Linked DNA regions of Homo sapiens: region 1 is linked to region 2. A link means that fine-mapping ties the variant in region 2 to the expression of a gene that starts in the linked region. Tissue or cell type: whole blood. Region 2 holds a variant in brackets; the other region holds the start of a gene. All regions are shown on one strand. Distances are between the middles of the regions.

Region 1 (8,100 bases), 140 kb before region 2:
CTAGGTTCAATTCTTCCATTTTATAAATGAGGAGCTCAGGCTCAGGTAGTTTGAGGGAGCTATACAAAGTCACAAAGGCAAGAGACTTCCAGGGAAACTCCTGACCACTCCAAACTTCAGTCATTTCTCCCACCTTTAAAAATTGCAAGTTACTTTCTGTTCTGATCCTAGGGCACTGCTTACATAGTGCATATAAGATTTCTGTCATCAGTATCCAAAGGGGGCAGGGGGAATCTCAACCCATTCATGGCTATTTATTTTACATTTCTGGGTTTTTGTCCATAGGAAAACAGTGATATGCTATTCTAGTTTATTCATAGCAGCTAGCACAGTGCTATCTTCACAGTAGGTGCTAAACATTTTAAAATGTTGCTTATTTAATAAGTGACAAGAATATCAATTATATTTCTTCATAAAAGAAAGGAATAACAATTTATTTAAACATTTTATATAATTAAAACTTTTCAGCTAGGAGCAGCAGCTTGCACCTGTAATCCCAACTACTTGGGAAGCTGAGGTGGGAGGGCAGCTTGAGCCCAGGAGTTTGAGGCCGCAGTGAGCTACGTTTGCTTCCCCGCACTCCAGCCTCAGTGACAGAGTGAAACCCCGACTCTTAAAAAAAAAAAAAAAATTCCCGATTCCTGAGTCTGCTCTCCTACAAATCAGACCATTGACACACTTTGGCTAGAGGTTTTATGACTATGAGCTTATTCATTTTGTTTCCTGAAATTTTCCTTTAAAAGAAATAAATTTACATACATACTCATATGAAATATATATTTTATTTCTCTATATTCTGTTATTGAGTTTATTCAAACAAGGTTAGGGGTGTTATCAAATGCTTAAACTGAGTTAAAAGGATCATGCAACTTACCATTATTTATTAACTTAAAAGGAACTTCTCTCTCACTTCAGTGAATATTTTTTAAATGCACATTTTAAATGGTGTAAAATAACATAATTAATCCAGTTTTGAATCTTAAAAAGTGTTAGTGTTTTATTAATTTACTCACACAGGTTATCCGAAAAGGATCTTCTGTTCCCCATCATGCTTTTAATAAAATTAACTAGTATAAGAATCTCCATAAACGAAGTACCAAAATGTTTACATTTATATTTCTGAAGCGCTAATAACATGACAAATACATGCTGCACATTTTATGTCTTAACTCACTTAATTCTCCCAAAGAGTCAAGTCCTAAGCGTTATGATCATCTCTTTAAAAAAAAAAAAAATCCAAAAATTGGGTATCAGAGAGGATAAGTAACTTGCTCAAGGTCGTACAGCTAATGAGTGGTGGAACTGGGATTTCAGTGTAGGCCTGACCTGGTTTTAATCACACTGCTGTAACAACACCTGGATTGTTTTTGTGCAAGACTTTCAAAACTGACAGAAGGAGAAGAACAAGAAAAACTCAACTGAGAATGGAAACTCTTAAAAATATAGATTAAAATAATTTGGAGGGTAAAAGCAAATGAAATACTTTCCCAAGGATACCTCTGACAAAATTTGTAAAAAGAGAATTTCCTCTGGTACTAGAAAATTCATGTCCTCTTACTGGGCACTGGCAAATTTGAAAATTCCTCTTCTGCCTTTTGTAGAGCTGGGCGCACTGGGCTCAGACACATTTATCAGCTGCTATCTGGTGACTTCATCATTTTGGTGGAATTTCAAAGAACATTAATTTAGTTATTTAAAAACATACTTCAAATTTTTTTAAAACAATGTAATCTTTCCTTTGCAACTGTTTTTAGAAAAATGTCTAGAATTAGAAACGGCCAAATAACTTCACGATATTATTTTATTCTATTTGTGGTGTTCTTAACAGCTCCCACTCCTCAAAACAACCACACACATCACCAAAAAAATGCACCAATGACAATCTGCCACACTCCTCCCACAACTTGACATTATATGCACTGTACTGCTACCCTTTTCAGCCCGGGACAATGGAGTGTCCAGGCAAGAAGGAAACCACGGGTGACTATAACATTTTCCTTTAGATTTTGTGACATTGGCAAATATGCAGTTGCAACTACCATCAGTTACACAAGTAATGTTCATTTTTTCCTCTACAAGAAAAAAAAAAACAAAACCCAGATGTACTCTTTCACTCTAATTAGGCTTTCACTAATTTTCAGTAAAAAAGACTATGGTGACATATCCTGAAGAAGGAGGTATCCAATAAATATGCACCAACAAAAGAGCAGTGGAATTCCGCGCTGGGTACCGGAAATAGGGCAGCACTAGCGGAGGTGGGGAATGCGCTTCCAAGGGAGGCGGAACGCAGAGGGGATGCGAGATGGAGCCCGGGGAGCTGCCGCAGCGGGCGATGGCCCCGGCCGGCGCCGGCCGTTCTGGTTCGTGCATCTGCCGCTGCGGGTCGCGCGCTCTTACCTCGCAGCCCGCGAACCAGCCTCTCCGCCCAGGCCACTCGGGGCGGCTGCCCTTCCAGGGGGAGGTGGCGATGCAGCGGGTCCCCGCCGCCGACTGGGCTGGGGCACGGCGGGCCCTGGTCCTCTCGCCGGCGCCGCCTCCCGCTCGGGTGGCCCGCGCCGTGGTAGCCCCCAAGCCCCCGGCTCCGCGCGCCCACGGAGCTCACGGCCGAGGAGGCGGCCGACCTCCGGCTGCCCGGGCGCCACTCTACGTCCATCTCCACCACCATTCCGCCTTCTTCCCCTTCCACCTCCTCCTCCTCCTCCTCGGCCTCGAAGCCGGGGTTATCGCGGCTCCACGCCTGCCGGGAGCACGACGAGAGCGGAGGAGAAGGGGAGGCCGCGGCTCCGGCCGGGGGGTCCCGCGCGGCCGCCTGCCGGATGCGCTGCATCTCGATCTCCAGGCCCCGCTGCTCGCAGAGGCCGCCCGGGGCGGCGAGGCTGGCGCCCACGGCCGCGCAGCCAGCCATCAGCCGGCCCGGGTCCGGCGCGCGGGGCGCGGGCGGCCGCTTGGCGTCCCCGGGCTGCTGAGGCTGCACGCGACTGGAGTTCACCATCGCGGTCACTGGCGTCCGGCGCGCGGGTGCGCGGCGCCGCGCTCGGCGCTGTGCGCCTCAGGAGCCATGTTCCTTTCTTCCCGGCGCCCGCCGCCGCCTGCTCCCCGCCCCCGACCTCCCCGCGGTCCCGCGTCCTCTCGCCCGCCCCTTTGGCCCGCCTCCCTCTGGCCTCGCCCCGCCTCGCCCATCCGCCGCGGCGCGCTGAGCGGGGAGGTGCGAGGGAGCCGCCCCCGCGGTCTGCGCGCTCGCCCGGCGGCTCCCGAGTCCGCGTTCCAAGTGGAACCGGAGCCCGGGCGCGGGCGCCCACGTTCCATTCCCGGGAAGGCCTGGGAAGGGAGGGAATCGCTCACCCGCCAGCCCGCCTGCAGGGAAAGGGCTCCTGGAGCTGTCGATGCCTGCCCGACGCTGAGATAACTCTTGGGTCCCAGTTATCCACCAGCCACTTCTGCCTCGATTCACCAAAGGGCAGGGAAAGAACCTTTTGGTGAGATGGTGTGAATTAGCGACATCCAGCCTGAGCTGAAGTCTCCAGCGGGTCAAAGAAATCTTTCCATTTGCAAACTACCAAGGCTGACTTGCTGTGCATTTGGCGGGCCTCCTGCCCCTGATTCTGCTGGTTTGGAGATGCTTTCTCGCTCTTTGGTTGGCTTCTGTCTCCACACATTGTGGGGATCCCAGGGATTCGTCATAGGACTCTCGGATCGCTGGTGCCTCCACTGTGATCTCCGGTCTCCCTGCGGCCAGCACTGACTTCTAGCAACAGAATCCTGCATGAGGGCCTAGGCACAGAACTTTATTTCCACTCTTCTGAACACATCTAATGTGATGCTCTGCAATTGTCTGAAATTTATCCTACCCTAAGTCATTATCTTGTCCCCTTCTCTGGAACCTGCTTCACTTCCCGTATCCCAAGGTGAGGTTTGGGGCTTCGCTGTCCTCCTCACTTCCCAGGCCACTCTTCTTCATGGAAGCCTCGCGGTTTACCCTCCACCGCCTACACCTTATCTTCTTGTTACTTTTGCCCCACAGATATCACCCTGATATGATCTCTGTTTCTCACTCCTGCTGGCTTGATCTTATGTCTTGCATTATTCCGCATTAGAACAATTGATCCCTGTCAACTCCCATCTCTATTCTCCACGTCGGTGTCCTCACTATTTCCAGGTTATATTGCAGAACCAAAGCTGCTTATTTGTCACGTTGATGCTTAGACACCTCTGTGGGCTTCTGGCAGCTGAAAGGATAAAATTTAATTTCTGTGGTTTGGTTTAGTAAATTCTCATAATCTGCTCCTGTATTTGTTTGTTAGGGCTGCCATAACAAAGTACCAGAGACTGGGTGGCTTAACAGAAATTTATTTGCTCACCTTGTCTCTACAAAAAATACAAAAATTAGCCAGGCTTTGCGGTGTGTGCCTTTGGTCCCAGCTATTAGGGACGCTGAGGTGGGAGGATCGCTTGAGCCCGGGAGGCAGAGGATGTAGTGAGCCAAGATCGGGCCACTGCACTCCAAGTGACAGAGTGAGACTCTGTCTCATAAAGAAAGAAAGAGAGAGAGAGAAGAAAGAAAAAAAGAAGGAAGGAAGGAAAAAGAAAAGAAAAATTGTATTTTCTCACGAGGTGTTGGCAGAGTTGGTTTCTTCTGAGGCCTCTCTCCTTGGCTTGCAGATGGCCCCGCTTTTGTGTCCTCACGCCGTCTTCCCTCTTCCCTCTGTATGCGTCTGTGTCCTAATTGTCTATTCTTATACATCATATTGGATTAGGGCCTACCCTCATGACCTTGTTTTCACTTCATTACTTCTGTAAAGACCCTGTCTCCAAGTATGGTCATGTTCTGAGGTAATGGGGGTTAGGACTTCAACACAGAAATTTTTGGGGGGACACAATTTAGCTTTAACAGCTCTTAATGTACTCCTCTAGCATGGCATCCCATGCCATCCATCCACCTTAATGAATTATTCATTTGTTCTCTAGGCACATATAACATGCTGCTAATATTTAGGTAATTATGGCTACCTATTACCTGATCCTGCAGTTTATTAATTTAGATATTCATGTTCTTCTCTTAACTGTGAGCTTCTCAAAGGCAAGACTGGTGGGTCTGGAGCACAGCCCTAGCTCATGCTATTCATCAGTTCATTCTGAAGACATTTCCTGTGCCCTGAATTAAGGTCTGGGCATGTAGAGAGGAGTATGATACAGCCTTGGCCCTCAAGAGGAGACAGACCAAAAATGAGAGATTACCAAGTGGGTTAAGGGTTATGGTGCCTGTCATCCAAGGAACTTCTGAAGCTGAAGATGTCCTGAATAGCACCAGCAGCACTGCAGAGTCGAAGGATTCTTACAGACACATTCCAACAGAGGAGAGCCAGGCCTGGAAAGAGAATGCAGAATCTGAGCCAAAGGGTCCTCTGGAGAATAGGCCTAGTACAATGTTTTCAAATTGTGATCAGAAGATCTCCAGCATCACTTGCAGCTCTTGCTAAAAATATAGATACTGGGTCCACATTCCAACCTTATTGACTCAAAATCTTCCGGATTCCAGTCCTGAAATTCTGAATCTTCACAGGGGATTCTCAGGCATCCAAAGTTTGAGAAGCACCAATGTGTTCCAAATGGAAGAGGTTTCATAAATATTTCCCCCACATTTCTATACTTCACTGTTAGCACTAGTGAGACAATCATCTGGAATCCCAGACTTAGAAGAAAATTCAGTGGTCTTTGAGTCAGGTTACTCTATGCTTGTGCCTGCAGTCACTAATTCGTTGTAAGGACCCTGGAGCCAGACTGCCTGGATTCTGATTTACTCACTACTTCCTAGCTGTGTGACCTTGGGAAAGTCACTTTATCTCCTTGTACCACCAAAGATGAGGATAATGATAATGCCTACCTCATAGGGTTGTTGTGAGGATTAGGTGAATTAATACATGTGTTTTAGTCCATTCGGGCTGCTATAAAAAATATCATGTAGTGGGTGGCTTATAAACGATGAACCTTTATTTCTTACAGTTCTGGAAGCTGGACGGTCCAAGATCATGCTGCCAGCAGATTTGTGGTCTGGTGAGGGTCTACTTTCTGGTTCATAGACTGCACCTCCTAGCTGTGTCTTATGGTAGAAGGGGCAAAAGAGCTCCCTTGAGCTGCTTCTCTAAGGGCACTAATCCCATTTGTGAGGGCTCCAGCCCCATGATGTAATCACCTCTCAGAGGCCCCAGCTCCTTATACCATCACTTTGAAGGTTAGGATTTCAATGTATGAATTATGGGGGGGGAACACAAACACCCAGACCATAGCATGTGGAACACCGTCTGACATGTACGTGCTAATAGTGTTAGAAGTAGTCTTTGCTCTTATATCTTAATTATGATAACTGTTTTCATCTATGATAATTGCTTTTGTGGATGTCTTTGTTAGTGTTAGAAGTGGTCTTAGCTCTTATATCTTAATTATGATAACTATTTTCATCTATTATAATTGCTTTTGTGGATGTCTTTGTTCCAGCTAGGCTGTGAGTTTCTGGAGGGCTCCATGCCAATCCTAGAGGCTTCTATAACAAATACTTACTAAACACCTACTATATGCCAGGCACAATACTAGGAGAGACGGCAATTCATTAAATAGGGGAAAAGCCTAGCTCTCATAGAGGTGAGCTTATATTTTACAGGGTTTGAGGGGATTTAGAAGAGAGATTGCCCAGGCTGGCATGGGTAGGGAAGGTAGGTAGGGCCAGATCATAGGAAGCCTCAGATGTGTGTTAAGGAGTACAGACTCTCTATAGTTAATGATAACATAAATAGGCCTTTTTTTTTTCTTTCTAGAGTGTCAGTTCCTATTTAAAACAAAATCTGAAATCTTCCTGAAACTATATCCTCACCCTTAAAAGAATTCAAATTGATTGGAAATGTGTCTGCACATACATAATTCAGAGTTATATGTGTGCTTACCCAAAATTTTCTTTACAAATTATTGCAAGAAATGTAATCATTAAAAATTCGCAGCAATTTTTGTGTAATACCACTTAAATAGCATTTGGTCCATTGCACCCTAAATCTTACATTTTGGAGTTTCAATATTAATTTCAATCTTAATTTTCATAAACCCAACACCAGCCATCTAATATATTTCCTGTTCAAATACTTATTCATTCCTTCTGGCTTACTAAGGTTCCCTTTTGTGCTTTTATGTTAATTTGTTTCTCCCCTTTAGAGTGCCCAGCTTTTGCTCAAGCAGGCCCTGAGGCTGTAAATTTCTCTCCCTACCCACGGAATTCCTTCCTTTAATACCCATCTGAAGACCTTACTTCTAATAAGAAATTTTCCATTATTAAATAAGTGACGTGCACAAAGTTTTTTTCATCTCATTTCCACAATCCTGTTGTCACATTACAAATTTCCATCATCTGTAGCATCTGGAAATACCGAGTGGGATAGATAACATGGCCTGGCTGCTGTTTGTTTTTTTTTTCATCAGTGTGCTAGATCTTCCTGGACACGCTGCACAAATCTCACCTCAGTCTTAGTGCCACCGTGGACGCTGGAAGGAGCCATTTTAAAAGGCAACCTTAAACAGTTCAGTCTAATTTAATATTAGTGGCCTCCACACCTCTGACTCTTGTATTATTAGAATTGCCTGTTTGGCTTTTATTTTCCAGTGTGAACTGATGAAACAGACACAAAGTGAAGTACCCGTTGGTTTCGCGGTCTCCACCTCGAGAGGAAATCCAAAAGGAGTTTCTGGCATGTGTGGTGTTGCTTAGCAATTTACCCAAACAAACATGTTTCCTCCTCATTTTTTTCCCCAGTACTTATTTACTCAAGAACATTGTAAAATCAATTTTTACCACTTGACATCTGAAATCATTAGAAGAAAATCTGGTGTTTTGGGCTTTATGAGAAGAACTGCTAACCACAGTAAGACTTTGACTTTACTTTGTTTGTCATTTTGCTGCTTTAATAACATAAAGCTAGGATTTGTGGCCTTCTTCATGATAGATTTGGTTTGGATTGGCCTGCATACATCCCTGTCTCTGTGGGGTTATCTTGGCACCATAATTGGCTGGCACCGTGATCTTGATGACCTAATCTCTCTATCTCAATTTCCTTCTCTGGA
Region 2 (8,115 bases):
TTTACTATGTGCATATGCATGGGAGCCTCATAAAATATGACTCAAAGAAGAATAAGATGACTGAAGTTTTTATATCATACAGAGAGGAATAGGGGCTGGGGCTCCTGGAGGGTGAGGGTGACAAGCTATGAGAGAGTGAGGGGAAGAAATGCACTAAAACCAAAGGTTTGTCTTATTATGTAGATGAAGTCTCTCAGGTAGCAGCCCTCTGAAGGATAGATTGTAGCCTGTGGTAAAAGTCTCTCTGAGCAACGTGTTAGACCTTTAGTCTCTTTTCCTGTGAGCTAACCTCCCCTGGCTGATGATTGTGTTCCTTGTAAAGGAACTTCTCATAGTCAGATAAGGGAAGATAAGAGAAAGCCCTCCCAGCATTTGCTACTCCCAGGTGCTGTTAGTTTGAAGTCCAAAACAGTGTATTTTAGGATATTGTTTTCTGAGCCTCCCAAAATGAAATAAGAACATTAAATTAAAGAACATAGTTAAGAACAATATACAAGGTATTTACTAGATGCTATATAGTGAATACAAAGATATTAAAGATGCTCTTTGTCCTCTGAGTTTCCAGTCTCCAAGAATAGTTAATGTTAGTGGGCAGAGATATTGGGTACGAGTGGTGGGCTAGGGATTATGAAGAGGCAGAGTAGGGGTGCTTGAATAACCTCTTCTTATGATTTTTGGGGCATTAGGGAATGCCTTTATTCTGGGTCATCTTCCTGCCTGCTTTATATGATGCCTGAACTACTAGTAAGACTTAATTCTCATAGGGGAGTATTTTTCTTTTTTCTTTTTTAAGGAGATGTTCTTTAAAATGCAAATAATTCCCAGAGGAGAAATACATCAGTTTTGTAGGATTAGTTCTTCACATATAAGAATTATGCCAGATTAGCTGTTTTTATTTCACAAATGGGGGTGAGATACTGAATGTTTAGGAGTTTACTGGGTGCAGGAGTAAGAATGAGTTTTAAATAAAGTGTTGAGGGGTACTAATTATCCAGAGGTAACAAGAGGAGAAGACAGAAGGTAAGAAGGAGAGCTATATTATGCCATTTTGCTTAAGACTAACACTGGCTACAGTGGTACACCCAAATGCCCAAATATATATATAGAAACGGAATAGAACTAGAATTCTCATGAAAAATACTTGCAGTTTGCTGGCGTTGCTCACCTGTCAGTTCCTGCTCCTCTCTTCTTATCCTGCCTGTGTTGGAGACCATGCATTCTCAGCTGGGGTGATACTGCTCCCAAGAAGGAGGACTGGTTCTTGAGGGGTGAAAAAATTATACTATTTTTATGTCTAAAACACAGATATACATATAGCACATAAGCAAATATATGGTATATCCGTGGGAGGGAGTTACAAAGTCTTCTTAGGAAAGGCAATAATGAAAAGAAGGTTGGGAAACATTGATGTAGACCAGGTTAATTGGGAAGGCAAAAATCTGAGAAGAAGATACAGTTGGGGAAAAGTCACAAATAAAAGGCCAGATTTACTATGTATGGAAAAAAAATTAGGAGAGACAGAAAGGGGATAGTAAATCAGTAGACTTCAGGGAAAACATTTATGGTTGGTGACAAGATAGATCTCAGGGAGTCATGGGGAGAGAAATTGAGTGCAAGAGGAAGGGGAAAGGAAATTTCAAAACATATATTGCTGTGGATTGTTTATAGAATTCCCATTGACACTGGTCAAAGGAGGCAAGTAAGGATTAGAACTACACATGACTAGTTTTGACTTCTAAACTTCAGTGGTGGCATCAAAAAAGTCAATTCTTTGAGAATAATAATCAGTGTTTTCTCAGTCTTATGTAAAATGCAACAACAAAAAAATGCAGCTATTATAGGCTCTTTAGTAGCCCTCCAATAATATAAGTCCCTAAGCCCATATTATTTAGAAGCCACTACAGATGATTGTGTTCCTTTGAAAGCAGCATCTAGACACTGGGCTTCATGAACCCTGGACTTTATTTGGGTTATGGAGTTTATTAATTGCTCTAGAAGACATCTAAGCTGACTGGTCTATAGGGAGTGTTTCAGTTCTTAAGAGCTGCCTCAAAAGAATATTAACATTGTCCTTTGTGCATCTTTGAACACCCACCTACATGAATGCCACCAGTCTAGAAAAGTCCAAAGACTTGTGTCAGAATATCTACAAAGGAACCAGGCATCCTACATATTTCATTGGCCTTCCAAAGGAGCTATATCTTCTAATGATGGAGAGTAGAGAAATGATTTTTCAGATATCATGCTGCAAATTAATATCATTCTTGGGAAATAGATGAGGTCTACCTTGTTCCATTCACCGGCTTGAAATAGCAGGAATATAAATCAGAGAAAATGGCTGAGGTGAGTCTCAATCATTTTAGAGGTTTACTTTGCCAAGGTTGAGGACAAGAAAAGGAACACAAAATCACAGGATCATCTGTGATCCATGCTTTTTCCAAGGAGGTTTGGGACTTCAATATTTAAAGGGGAAAGAATGGGCAGTAGGGAAAAGAGAAAGGAAAAAGGCAGCCGGGGGGGAGGGTGTCAGGGGGAATAGATAAAAGGGGCAAGCTGTTGCATTCTTTTGAGGCTTTGATCATCAGTCACTGAATCCACATGTTACATGTGAAAGGAGGGGTTAGAGAAATAGTCAATTGTGCATTGCTCAGTGACTCTGCATTTTTACATGAGGTAAAGTAAACACAGAGGAAGAAATCAAATACTATTTGTCTCAGGCAAGGGGAGGGATCACTTGCAGTCCTGTTCTTTGACCCTTACCTGTGAAGATAACCTGTTAGTTTCACATTGTCAGGGTGAAATTCAACAGAACTGTTTTAGGGTAAAGATCTTGAGGCCCACAGGAAATTCCTTCATGAGGAAATTGTGTGGGAGGCCTCCTGGGGAAGTAGGTGGCCTTCTATCTTTGTTGCTATTTAGGGATAAAATGGGAGGCAGTTCTGTGTGGTTCAGTTCCCAAGGTTGACTTTTCCTTTTGGCATAGTGAGTTTGGGGTCCTCAGATTTTTATTTTTCTTCCACAGGATTCTCCCTGAAATGAACAACAATATGGTCCATTTCCCACTGTCAAGGATGTCCTCAAAAATCACTCATTGTATTGTGCATAAAGTCTTTTGGCTGCCAGAGAAAGTTTATTACACTGTACCAACGACAGTGAGGTTGTTTGTTAAATGGATTACAATACAAATAACTAAGTTATACTTTTCAAAAATAATGCAGACCGCATAGGTCAGAAAGGCATAGAGCTTTTGCATTAAATTAGGAGCACAAGTATTCCCATTCATTTAATAAGCAATCCCTTACCAATGATAAATGCCCAAATCACCAGAATCAATTATGTAAGTTAAAGGAACAAAACATGATTAGAACTTTCAAATGCAATTGAGTGCTTCCCTGCTACCCTTAAGTTGGCATCTGAGTGCTGGGAAGGTTTGAGGGAGAGAAGAGAGAAAAAGGAACAACATCACGGTCAAGGGCAGACAGGCACTTCCCAGAGGTAGTTTGGAAATAGTCCAAATTTTGTGGTTAAAAATAAACAAGGCTTTCTGTAAATTTCTTTTTCCCCATTGTAAGTTGTCTGACGTGATCATGACCTTGTTGGCAAATTCTGTTTTCATTGTGACTGGAAAACCTTTTACCTCAAGCTCACTTTGGGGAAAATTTAGTCCTTACGGTTCTAATTTCTTCCTTTACCAGTTTGCTGTCTTTTTTCTCCCCTGTCTGAGGAACTTCTTGGAAAGTTCAACTCATTTGTCTAAGGGTTTCTTCCTCAGGGTCATTCTGAAATTTCATTGTATTATATCAATTTCATTTGATATA[C/T]TTAGGTTTAATCAATAGAGAATGATATTTACTGGGAGGGAAACAGCAATGACTAAAGCAAAATATAGTTGGTACAACCTGAATTCAGATGGTATCAACATGACTGGAGTAGTGATGGAAGGATTTTATGGAAGTAAAAAGAATACTTCATATCTTAAAACTTGATTTCATAGTATCCCCACTTTCTCCTAATACTGTTGAGTAGTTAATATCAATTAAAATAAAGTTTGTTTTATTTTGAAGCTCTTTCGAGAACTTCCAAAAGTATCTCAAAGTGATTTAAGAAAATCTGTGATGTGCTGTAACTAGAAATTAATGATTAGAAATACAGTAACTTCACTCAAAACCTCTCATTATTAGCATATACACTGGAGGTAGGTAGGAAAGTGTGTCAATGTCAAAAGTTACATTTAAAATTGACCACAATTTTTTTGGGGGGGTGGGAGGAAGAGGTAAAATTTACAGATAGTCTCTACACATTGTTTTCTCATATTACGATGTATAGTTAAGCTTTATTCAGCACATAATTGAGACAGCCAGGTGGGAAAGTGTCCCCAAAGAATCTCCAACCAGCCTGCCCACTGGGAGGAGTGTGCACTGGGGTGGAACCACAGAAGTCTGTGCCATTTGCAGTGGGGAGGAGCCTGGCCCCTCCTCTTCCTGGGTGGAATTTGGGATTCAATCTGTGAGGTGGGAAGCTTATACTAGGAGGACTCTCACTCTGTTTTTTTTCTCCTTTTTGCCCAGTAAATCCCATTATTCTCACCCTTCAAATTGTCTGCAAGCCTACTTCTGTGGCCAAATGACAAGGACCCTGCCTTTAGCTGAATTAAGGACAAGTCCCGCAATGTGATTATAATAGTCCCAGACCTACTGAGATACAAAAGAACTAAGTGGTTTCCTGCCAGGGAGAAAATTACCACGGAAAAGGTAATGAGAGGTGATAGCCTCCTGGCAGCCCTCGCTCGCTCTGGGCACCTCCTTGGCCTAGGCGCCCACTCTCGCTGCGCTTGAGGGGCCCTTCAGGCCACTTCTTGCGGGGCTTCCCCACCATGGGAGCCCCTCTCTGGGCTGGCCAAGGCCGGAGCCGGCTCCCTCAGCTTGCGGGAGGTGTGGAGGGAGAGGCGCGGGTGGGAACCGGGCTGCGCCTGGTGCTTGCAGGCCAGCGCGAGTTCTGGGTGGGCGTGGGCTCGGCGGCCCCACACTCGGAGCAGCCGGCCAGTGCTGCCGGCCGGGTGAGTGAGGGGCTTAGCACCCAGGCCAGCAGCTGCAGAGGGTACGCCGGGTCCCCCAGCAGTGCCGGCCCCCCGGCGCTGCGCTGGAATTCTTGCCGGGCCTCAGCTGCCTCCCGGCGGGGCAGGGCTCCGGACCTGCAGCCCGCCATGCCTGAGCCTCCCTCCCGCCCCCCACCGCCGTGGGCTCCTGCGCGGCCCCACGAGCGCTACCCCCTGCTCTGCAGCGCCCGGTCCCATCCACAGCTCAAGGGCTGAGGATTGTGGGCGCATGGTGCGGGACTGGCGGGCAGCTCCACCTGCTGTCCGGTGTGGAATCCACTAGGTGAAGCCAGCTGGGCTCCTGAGTCTAGTGGGGACTTGGAGAACCTTTATGTCTAGCTAAGGGATTGTAAATACACCAATCAGCACTGTGTCTAGGTCAAGGTTTGTAAACACACCAATCAGCACCCTGTGTCTAGCTCAAGGTTTGTTAATGCACCAATCAGTGCTCTGTGTCTAGCTAATCCAGTGGGGACTTGGAGAACCTTTATGTCTAGCTAAGGGATTGTAAATACACCAATCAGCACTCTGTGTCTAGCTCAAGGTTTGTAAATGCACCAATCAGCACCCTGTGTCTAGCTCAAGGTTTGTAAATGCACCTATCAGTGCTCTGTGTCTAGCTAATCAAGTGGGGACTTGAAGAACTTTTGTGTCTAGCTCAGGGATTGTAAATGCAACAATCAGCACCCTGTCAAAATGGACCAATCAGCTCTCTGCAAAACAGATGAATCAGCTCTCTGTAAAATGGACTAATCAGCAGGATGTGGGTGGGACCAGATAAGGGAATAAAAGCAGGCTGCCCCAGCCAGCAGTGGCAACCCGCTTCGGGTCCCCTTCCACACGGTGGAAGCTTTGTTCTTTTGCTCTTTGCAATAAATCTTGCTGCTGCTCAGTCTTTGGGTCTGCACTGTCTTTATGAGGTGTAACACTCATTGCAAAGGTGTGCAGCTTCACTCCTGCGCCAGCGAGACCACGAACCCACAAGAAGGAAGAAACTCCGAATACATCCGAACATCAGAAGGAACAAACTCCGGACACGCGGACTTTACGAACTGTAACACTCACCGCGAGGGTCCGCGGCTTCATTCTTGAAGTCAGTGAGACCAAGAACCCACCAATTCCGGACACAGTAAGACAGCACTCCTGTGGAACTGCTTCATGGAATTTAAGAAACTTGGTTTCAGAGCTGGTAGACTCCTTTAAATCACCAATGTGTTTTAGCAGAAACCTACAACACACTGAGAATATCAATGAACCTCAAGATGTTTAATAGCCAGTATTTTTGTGACTGTCCCTTGAATTAGACATGCTAGCCACAGGGAGCAAAGGAAGTGAGGTGGGGCAGAGAGTGGGTGGGGATGAGGCTAGTTTTGCCCCACTGTGTTTCCATGAAGTTTTGTATAAAGTGGACTTTATGGTGTTTGCTGAAACCCATCTGCAGGGGAAAGGTTTGTTTGAACTTGAGGTAAAATAAGCTACCAGCTACTGTACTTCCTGGCCTGCCTCAGTGAGCCAGCCAGGAAGGGGTTATCCCCAGGCACTTCTCTCCCTCTGACCCCACTGCAGAGGTACTGCTTGTGCTGCCCTAATGAATACACTCTTCCTCGCCTCCTGAATTTGCTCTTTTACCTAAACGGAAACAAATACTGAAAATATAAGACGTGTTATTGCAAAAAGAAGGAGTAAAGTCAGAGTCTGTGACTTTCCCACACATCAGTGGAAGCTGGTGTTTTTTGAATAGAAGTCATCTCTGTATGGCTGGCTGTCAGACAGAACCTCCCACACAGAAGGGACCCACACTGGGTTTCTTTCTCCTGTCTTACCATCCTGGGATTCTTACTGATTATCTTTAAACTTACAGTTTATAACTGAAGTCTGATGGGACACTGGAGCATGGGCTTGAGCAGATGAAATATGTGGAAGCAAGGAAGGAGCTTTGTAGTTTAGTACTTAATAGCACTTCCCCCTGCTTTTTGAACAAGAGATGCTGCATTTTCATTGGTACTGGGCTTCACGAATTGTGTAACTAGTCCGGTCTCTCTGTGGATCTCTACTGTTTTTTATTCTACTAATAACAGCATACTTGTATTAGTCAGGGTTCTCCAGAGACACGGAACGAATAGAATATATACAGATATACAAGAAGAGACTTGTTATGGGAATTGGCTCATGTGATGATGGAGGTCAAGAAGCCCCACTATACACTGAAGCCAACTGGAGAACCAGGAAAACTGGTGGTGTAATTCAGTCCAAGACTTAAGGCTTGGGAACCTGGGGGGCTACTGGTGTAAGTTCTGGAGTCCAAAGGTCCAAAAACCAGGACCACCCACGTCCCAAGGCAGGGGAAGATGGATGGCCCAGATCAAGCAGATAGAGAAAATTCACGCTTCCGCCACCTCTTTGTTCTCTTGAGGCCCTCAATGCATTGGATGGTGCCCACCTGCATTGATGAGGGTGATATTCTGTACTAAGTCTACTGATGGATTCAACGCTGATCTCTTTCAGAAACACCCTCAAAGACATACTTAAAATAATGTTTACAGGCTATCTGGGCATCCCTTAGCCCTGTTAAGTCAACACATATAATTAACTATCACAACATCTTTTTATTATTTTTGCCTATGAAGTGGTCATGTTAATCTGTTAAGCTTGTATTATGTTTTTCTGTAAATATTCTTGGGACTACTCTGTAGGCATCAGTTTATGAGACTCATGAAATAGTGTTAACTATTAGTACTAATGGCACTGGAAATTCTAAAATCAAGACCACGTAAGAGAACAAAGATGTGACAGTGAAATACACTTGCTGTGGATTCTGAAGGCATTTCTAAAAGATGTTCAGAAATGTAGCGTATAACTTCCCAAGATGACAATTTCAAAGAGATTTCATTTGGATACCTAAGTATTGGTAATTAAAAAACCAGGTCAGGTGCAGTGGCTCACGCCTGTAATCCCAGCACTTTGGGAGGCAGAGGTGGGCAGATCACGTGAGGTCAGGAGTTCGAAACCAGCTTGGCCAACAT

What was found. PIP is the estimated chance that this variant, and not a neighbour inherited with it, causes the effect.
Region 1: it holds the start of PKD2, and the variant in region 2 is fine-mapped to the expression of PKD2 in whole blood (INTERVAL, PIP 0.98).

What each region holds. Positions count from the first base shown.
Region 1 is chr4:88,002,626-88,010,725 of GRCh38, reverse strand. PKD2 (polycystin 2, transient receptor potential cation channel) reads right to left here and starts at 3,091. Exons shown (of 15, transcript NM_000297.4): 1 at 2,398-3,091. The coding sequence starts at 2,992. RefSeq lists silencers at 2,209-2,348, 2,399-3,328.
Region 2 is chr4:87,860,869-87,868,983 of GRCh38, reverse strand. No RefSeq gene overlaps it. Among named protein-coding and RNA genes, the nearest start is that of MEPE, 32 kb to the right of the region's middle. RefSeq lists an enhancer at 2,339-3,151. The variant C/T (reference allele first, on the strand shown) is at 3,819.